Regions from separate parts of the Homo sapiens genome. Here region 2 is linked to region 1. Evidence: fine-mapped expression QTL. A gene starts in region 1. The other region holds a variant in brackets. All regions are shown on one strand. Distances are from middle to middle. Region 1 holds the start of LCMT1 (leucine carboxyl methyltransferase 1). Region 2 overlaps LCMT1 (leucine carboxyl methyltransferase 1).

Evidence for each region. PIP is the estimated chance that this variant, and not a neighbour inherited with it, causes the effect. A credible set is the group of variants that fine-mapping cannot tell apart.
Region 2: its variant is the best candidate, but not a certain one, in a credible set for the expression of LCMT1 in whole blood (INTERVAL, PIP 0.55).

Annotation. Positions count from the first base shown.
Region 1 is chr16:25,109,600-25,114,119 of GRCh38, forward strand. It overlaps LCMT1 (leucine carboxyl methyltransferase 1), which reads left to right and starts at 2,143. Exons shown (of 11, transcript NM_016309.3): 1 at 2,143-2,397. The coding sequence starts at 2,285. LCMT1-AS1 (LCMT1 antisense RNA 1) reads right to left here and starts at 1,956. Exons shown (of 3, transcript NR_120306.1): 1 at 1,797-1,956. RefSeq lists enhancers at 1,566-2,093, 1,871-2,200, 2,291-2,450.
Region 2 is chr16:25,136,510-25,140,509 of GRCh38, forward strand. LCMT1 (leucine carboxyl methyltransferase 1) reads left to right here. Exons shown (of 11, transcript NM_016309.3): 4 at 3,662-3,738. Among named protein-coding and RNA genes, the nearest start is that of LCMT1-AS2, 11 kb to the right of the region's middle. The variant A/G (reference allele first, on the strand shown) is at 1,848.

The DNA of each region.
Region 1 (4,520 bases):
TGGGATATGGCTCAAAGACTACCCCAGCATTGTCTCTTGCATTAAGGTATCATTTAGCCTGAGATGGCTAAGCTTGCAATCTCCAGACTCCACGCTGTCATAAACTTTCAGATCCTCAACCAGGAACTTACATGGAATGAGCTGGCCCTGGAGGTCAGCTGGAAGATGGCCAAATTCCTCTGAATCACCAGCTATTTTGAATCAAAGGCTCATCCAACAACAAAAGTGTATAAACCCATCTGCCTCCGCCTTCTTCCAGTCACCCCCAGTCTCACTGTCCAGACCTGTGGGATTAACACCGTATAGTACTTGCTGTTAACACTTACTATCCACTAACACCCGTGGAATGTGGACACTGCTAAGCTGGGAGATGATGCTTGTGCAATAGTTTGTATTACCCTTTTGGCAAAGGACCACTCCAAGAAAATGGTGTATTTCATCCCATCAGCATTCCCCCTGGCAAAGCTCTCCACCCTTAGTCATTCCCCTCTTGTCATTTCTACTGTGGCTATCAATGAGATCTTGTGCCTCCATTAGAATACTGAGCTAGCATTTGATATTTGACCTCACTCCAAGGTGTGTATTCTGGGTTTCTGTTGTTGATTTTCTTTTTAAAAAAATGAGTGCAATTCAAAGTTCTTAAAGTATATCTGTTTCCTGCTTCCAACAACTGACAGATAACAAAATGGAATATACAAAGACATTTTTAATTTATAATGTATATTAAACATTATTATACATATACAACTTACAAGGGTTGCTTCTGGCTGGATTCTCTGCCAATCGCCCGAACACTGAGGATTCTGCTAGTTGTTCTGCCCTGAGTTAATTATAGCTATAAAATTTCATCACCAGCAAGAAACCAGGCGACTTCCCCAGTACATCTTGAATTTATACATATATTTTGTACTAGATTTAGTACAAAATAAATCCAAAACATCTTGAATATGCCTCATAATGAAACAGACACACGTGAACCCACTCCCACGTGAGAAACTGAGGATGTGTCTATGTGCTCCTTCCCTGCCTCTCCCTCCCCCTCTTGTGTGCTACCCTCCCGGCTCCCTAAAGATCACCAATATCCTGATTCTTTTTTATTTTTTTTTCTCATGTCTTGCCTTCTCTGTACAGTATTTTACCATATATGTACGTTTCTCTAAACAACATTAGTTTTACTTGGTTTGAACTTTACAAAAGTGTTGTTAGACTTCCTTCTTTCACTGAACATCGTGTTTCTGAGATTCAGCCATTGATGCTGCTACCTGGTAGCTCTAGTTCATTTATGATCGCTGCTACATGGCTTCCTATTGTATTACTTTTCCACACACTACTTCCCTCACTACATTTCTTTTCTTTCTTTCTTTTATTTATTTGTTTATTTATTTTTTTGAGACGGAGTCTCGCTCTGTCGCTCAGGACGGAATGCAGTGGCGCCACATGGGCTTACTGCAACCTCCGCCTCCCGGGTTCAAGCGATTCTCCTGCCTCAGCCTCCTGAGTAGCCAGGACTAAGGCGGCCGCCACCACGCCCGGCTAATTTTTGTACTTTTAGTAACAACGGTGTTTCACCATGTTGGCCAGGCTGGTCTCGAACTCCTGACCTCAGGTGATCGGCCCGCCTCGGCTTCCCACAGTGGTGGGATTACAGGAGTGAGCCACTACGCCCGCCCCCCTCACTACATTTCGAAGGCAATTTTGGGGGCAAAGCCCTCAGCACAGTCGCTGGCAGAGTCAGCACACAACAAAATTTTGTAAAATTGAATGACACTGAGCCCGGACTGAATGTAACAACTTACACATGTTGCTTCTGGCTGGATTCTCTGCCCTTTGCCCGAACGCTGAGGATTCTGCTAGCTGTTCCGCCCTGAGTTAATTATAGCTATAAAATTTCGCGACCAGCAAGCAGAAACCGGGCGACTTCTCCAGACACCTAAGACTACGCTTCCCAGAAAGGATTGCGATACTCTCCTACTGTTTAGTTTCTTTTTCCTATCGTCAAATTTCCGGGTTATGTGGGCGGTGCCAAAATAATTATCCAATGAGCAACTTCGTAGGCTGAGCGGGCAGGAGAATTGCTCAATGAGCGACTCGGAAGAGGAGCCAATAAGCGGAGAGGTTGCTGGGGTAGCCGGCGTGGGCGGCGTCACTGAGCCGCGCCAGCTGAGCCAGGTAGGGCCCTACCCTCTTCTGTTGCTTTCTCCCTGTGGCTCGCGCCGTCCCCCGCCGCCCGTCGACCCCGCTTCCATGTCCCTGGCGGACACAGCTCCCAGGAACCTCCACGCCCATGGCCACTAGGCAGAGGGAATCCTCTATCACCTCCTGCTGTTCCACCTCGAGCTGCGACGCAGACGACGAGGGCGTGCGCGGCACCTGCGAAGATGCTTCCCTGTGCAAGAGGTGCCTGTCGGGCGCGGGGTTCGGGGCCGGCATCTGGGGCGCGGGCCTAGGTGGGAGGTGGGCCTGCATCTGAAGAATACGCTCAAGGCTGGCAGGGATGCAGCCCCCGCCTCGCACGACCCTCGCTTCCCACCTGTGAAGTGCACGGAGCAGGGCTTCATTTATTTAACGAATCGTTTCTGAGCTTTTGCTGTGAGCCAGGCAGGGGGCCAGCCTGGGTATCGTCGATGGGAGCAGGCCCCTGAGCCAGACAGACGAGGCCTTGGGCTTCTTGGAGCTAAACGCTGCTGGAAAGACAGACATGAAGCAAATAGTAGCTCCAGCCTCGATGGGTTACGAGGATGAGAGGTGTAGGTTCTCTCTCTTTTGTAGGTTGCATTCTTTAGGGGGTTGGTGTGATCCCTGTTGTGCACCTGAAACTCAGGATGACGAGGGGAAATAACCCACCCAGAGCCAAGTAATATCTCTTTGCAGAGCCAGTACCGCACTAAGTCTCCACTGTTAAGGGTGTGGTGGTGGGGATGGGGGCGTAGCCAGCAGAGGTACGTGTCAGAGAAAGAGAAAGCTTGAGGCTTGAATGTCCACCATTTATTCTTTCATTCAACAAAATTTTTTGAGACCTTACTTTGTGCCAGGCCTTTACTTTGCAGTGGTTAGTAGGAATTCGATGGTGGAAATACACCAAGAACAAGACAGACATGGTGTCAGACATACTGGAACTCACAGCTTTGTTGGAAAAGAGAGACAGGAAGCAAATAATTACCTATGAAATATATAATTATGATTTTTTTGTGTTGAGTGCTGACAAATACGGCAGTGCCATTAGAGTTTGTAATTTTGTCAGTGATGTTTAAGGTGAGAAGAGTTTGGGCGCGGTGGTTCACGCCTGTAATCCCAGCACTTTGGGAGGCCGAGGTGGGCAGATCACGAGGTCAGGAGTTCGAGACCATCCTGGCCAACATGGTGAAACCCCATCTCTACTAAAAATACAAATATTAGCTGGGTGTGGTGGCGGGCGCCTGTAATCCCAGCTACTCGGGAGGCTGAGGCCGGAGAATCATTTGAACCCGGGAGGCAGAGGTTGCAGTGAGCCAAGATCACGCTATTGCACTCCAACCTGGATGAGAGTGCGAGACTATGTCTCAAAAAAAAAAAAAAAAAAAAGTGAGAAGAAAAGGCTTGAAAAATAGGAAAGTTGTAGGAGAGTGTTCAGAGGAGTGTGAACTGTTAGAGGAACTCAAAAAATGCTTTAAAGGTGGGAGAAGGAGGCTGAGGCCACGTAGTGATTGTAGAGTGGGGAAAACCAGTGTGTTGGATTAAACCTTGCACTTTTTATAGGTTCTTGGGGACTAAACTTTCAGAGCATGGATTCTGGAGCTAGACTCTGTCAAACTGAGCGTTGCCACTTACTGGCAGTATAAAGTCGGGGAAATTACTAAACTTTTCTGTGGCTCAGTTTCCTGATCTGTAAAATGGGGAGTATAATAACGCATCATAGGTGGGTGTGGACAAAAATGATATTTAATATTAGTAGAGCACTTGGAGCAGTGTCTGGCATGTAGTCCATGTAAGTGGTGATTGATTAAATTAATAAATACACAAGTATTAAAGTCTTAGAGAGAGTCCCTTATGAAATTTGTGAATTTGAGTGGATTATACTCAGCTTTTTCTTCTGTGGCTTTCAGTTGCTATTGGCCACAGCTGTCTTGGCTCCTGGTAACTTCCACCTGCCGGGTTCAAGTGATTCTCCTGCCTCAACCTTCCAAGTAGCTGGGATCACAGGCACACACCACCATGCCCAGCTAATTTTTGCATTTTTAGTGGAGACAGGGCTTCACCACGTTGGCCAGGCTAGTTTCGAACTCCTGAACTCAAGTGATCCGCTCGCCTTGGTCTCCCAAAGTGCTGGGATTACAGGCATGAGCCACCCCACCCAGCCTAGTCTTTTCATTTTTAAAACAGTGATAATAAAGGTAACCTTTATGGGTGTCAGGATTAAATGAGATTATCGATGCAGAGGATCTGACACAAAGTGAAGCCCTCAGTAAATTATTATTGCTAGTTTTGACTTCCCTCCAGGCTGAATATTGTTTAGTTAAAGTTGCTGAATGTGCAGTAGCTAT
Region 2 (4,000 bases), 27 kb after region 1:
TGTGCAGGTTTGTTACATAGGTACACACATGCCATGGTGGTTTACTGCACCCATCAACCCGTCAGAGTCTCACTCTGTTGCCCAGGCTGCAGTGCAGTGGTGTGATCTCAGCTCACTGTAACCTCTGCCTCCAAGGTTCAAGCGATTCTCCTGCCTCAGCCTTCCGAGTAGCTGGGATTACAGATGCGCACCACCGTGCCTGGCTATTTTGTAGAGATGGGGTTTTACCATGTTGGCCGGGCTGGTCTTGAACTCCTGGCCTCAAGTGATCCACCACCCTCAGCCTCCTAAAGTGCAGGGATTACAGATGTGAGCCACCGCGCCCCACAGGATGTCTTTCTTAAGCGCTCCGGGTGTGCCTTTTGTAAGCTTTCTCTGCTCTGACTTCTTATTCAGAAGTTTTACAAGGTTCTAATGCATGGGAAAGCTCTTTAAAAAGGAAGAAGTCCCATAAGAGCTGCAGGGCACTATGCTGTCTTTCATTTATATACCTTTAATTGTTCTCATTGTCTTCTGGAATTTTAGGTGATCCTTAACTTCCCATATGCTGTCAGTAAAAGTTCTTAAAAGGTGTTGTAGAAATTGAAATTCCTAGTGAAAGTTATTTCCATATCCCCCTACCCATACCAATTCTCCTGCCTCAGCCTCCCGAGTAGCTGGGATTACAGGCACCTACCACCATGCCCAGCTAATAGTTTGTATTTTTAGTAGAGACAGGGTTTCAGTGTTGGCCAGGCTGGTCTCGAACTCCTGACCTCAGGTGATCCACCTGCCTCAGGCTCCCAAAGTGCTGGGATTACAGGCGTGAGCCACTGCACCTGGCCCCCCTCAAGTATCTTGAAATAGCTTCTGCATAACCCTACCCAGCAGGCATGGGCTATACCTCTAAGTGTGATCAGCTCAGATTCATGAGCCCAAGTCTCCTTGGATGGCTTTTTCTTTTTTTTTCTTTTGTGACAGGATCTGGCTCGGTCTCCCAGGCTGGAGTGCAGTGATATGATCTCAGCTCACTGTAGCCTCCTCCTCCCAGGCTCAAGCCATCTTCCTAACTCAGCCTTCCAAGTAGCTGGGGACTACAGGTGCAAGCCACCATGCCTGGCTAATTTGTATTTTTGGTAGAGATAGGGTCTTGCTGTGTTGCCCAGGCTGGTCTCGAACTTCTGGGCTCACGCACTCCTCCTGCCTGGGCCTCCCAAAGTGCTGGGATTACAGGTGTGAGCCACTGTACTTGGCGTCCTTTTTTGTTTTAAAAAGATAAATCCCAGCCTGGGTCCCCTGGGATTCCAGCAGAGGACTGGTCTTTATGTGGGAGGGTGCTGTATCTTTCAGCCCTGATGTTTGCTCTTAAGGGTCATTCACCTACTAGGATATGGTTACTGGTGATTTCTGCCCCCATCATGCTGTCCACAGGAGGTCTGCTATGCCGCACTCACCCCCCCGGGATTCATCTGTCCCTCTATACCTGTGCTCCATCTCTTGTTACTGTCTCCATGAATGGTTCTCTTACCTGCCCAGTTGCTCCAGTCAGAAACAAGGTGTCACCCTAACTTTCCTTTTCCTCCATCCCATCCTCTACCAGCGAAGCCATCACCAGGTTCTGGATGTCAGCAGTCTTCTTTGTTTTAAAAAAGTAGTTCTGTATTTCTGGGATAAGTGGAGAGGGGGAGAGGCTGGGCAGGTGGGCCAGGCTATAGAGTGCCTTGTTTCTTGCTGAGTTTTAGCAGTGTGCAGAGCTGCAGAAGGCCACCTGCAGTAGATAGTGCAGTACACAGCAGCGTGCAGCTTTGAGACACCAGAGGGGGTGCTGGGACAGTCTGGGCTGGAGGTGACAGAGCTCAGGAGGAGTG[A/G]AGGGATTCCAGAGGCATCAGCAGGGCTGAAGTACTGGGTGGCTGGATAGCGAGGAGGGCACCGAGAGAACACTAGGATGATAGGATGATGTGTGCGTGACTGGGTAGGGAGGGTGTAGCTACCAAGCAAGCCAGGTGACCCAGGGCTGTGTGTGCGCATGTGCGTGTGTGTGTGTGGTTGTGTGTGTGTGTATGTGTGTCTTTCATATTTGTTTGACTGCAGGCCACAAGAAGAAATAAATGTTACATCCTGAGCCAGGGCCCCCATCTCTATACCTGTGTCTGTAACAATAAAGGCACACACGTGTTGATTCAAATGCTAGAGACCTCATTTTAGGGTGCTGCTTTCCTTTGATCCCCGCCCTAGTTTCCTTCTTGCCCTGGCACCTTCTTTCCAGCACGTTGTGCAGTATTCAAAACGCAGTATACCTTCCCTTATTGTTACAGCTCACAAGCTCTTTGGATCCCCGTGTGATAATTTTACTAAGGTCAGGCCATTTCCTGTGAGCCCCACATGTATTGCCTCATTAATCTTCACAACCCCATAAAGTGTTAGCATTTTCTTCACTTTTCTCTTTTCTTTTTTTTTTTATTTTATCTTTGAGACGGAGTCTCGCTTTGTCGCCAGGCTGGAGTGCAGCAGCGCGATCTCAGCTCACTGCAACCTCCGTTTCCCGGGTTCAAGCAATTCTCCTGCCTCAGCCTCCTGAGTAGCTACTTTTTGTATTTTTTGTAGAGATGAGGTTTCATTCACCATGTTGGCCAGGATGGTCTCGGTCTCTTGACCTTGTGATCCGCCTGCCTCAGCCTCCCAAAGTGCTGGGATTACAGGCGTGAGCCACGGGTGCCCGGCTTCTTCACTTTTCAAACAAGTAAATCCTGGCCCAGTGAGTTTACTGACTTTCCCAAGACCTTACAGCATGTAAGTGGTGGAGCTGGGGTTTGAGCCACTCCAGCTCCAAGAGTGCCTGTTCTTTAATCTATCATACTTCACTATCACAGAGAAAAATGTATCAGAGGCTGGGCACCTGTAATCCTCGCTACTCTGGAGGCTGAGGCAGGAGAATCGCTTGAACCCGGGAGGCAGAGGTTGCAGTGAGCTGAGATCATGTCATTGCACTCCAGCCTGGGTGACAGAGTGAGACTCCGTCTCAAAAAAAGAAAAAAAAAATGAAAAATATATCAGAAAATAATACCCTTAATATATGTGATGCTTTTGATACTGGCTGTTTTAACCTATTTCACCCAAAAAATAATGCTCGTCAAAACCTACTACATTGATTTCCTGACCCTCCTAATGGAGCTCAAGCTGCCTTTTTTGTTGTTGTTAAATCGTTTAAACTTTTTAATTTTTTTGCATGGACAGGGTCTCGCTGTGTTGCCCAGGATGGCCTCAAACTCCTGGCCTCAAACGATCCTCCTGCCTCAGCCTTCTAAAGTGTTGAGATTACAGTCGTGAGCCACTGCACCTGGCCTCAAGCTGCCTTTTGAAAATACGGAGTATATTCTACTTCCAAAGCACCTCTCAGCTCCTCCCCATCATCCCAGCTGCCACCTGCTAGCTCAGGCTCCTTCCTGGACCTTACCTTCTTACCTGGCTGACTCCTCTGGCTTCCTGACTTTTTACCTTCATCTGTGCTTGCTTCCCTCAAATCTATTCTTGAGTAATTCGAAAAACACGTCTGCCCATATCAGTCCCCTGATTTAAAAATCCTTAAACACTATTGCTCTTAGGTGCCTAGTGCTTGATATGTGGAAGATGATCAGCACATGTAAGAGTAAAGAAATAAAAAGTATTGTGTGTTTTTCCCCAGGATGAAGATCTTCTCCCAAGTAAATATTTTGAGGTTGACTTTCCAATGATTGTCACGAGAAAGCTGCACAGTATCAAGTAAGTGTGGCATGGCCAGAAGAACAAAAGCCAGCGAGAATTCAGATCCAGCTCTCAAGAGATGGCAGATCTGAATGCCAGAGACTTCACTTTAGGGTGTTGCCTTCCGTTCACTGCCCCCCACCAACTTTTTTTTTGCCCTGGCACTCATTCCAGCATGTTCTACAGTCTGCAAAATGCAATATACATTTCCTTATTACAGATCACAGGCTCTATGGCTCCCCATGTAATTACAATTAACACGAGGCCAACCAAATCTCCC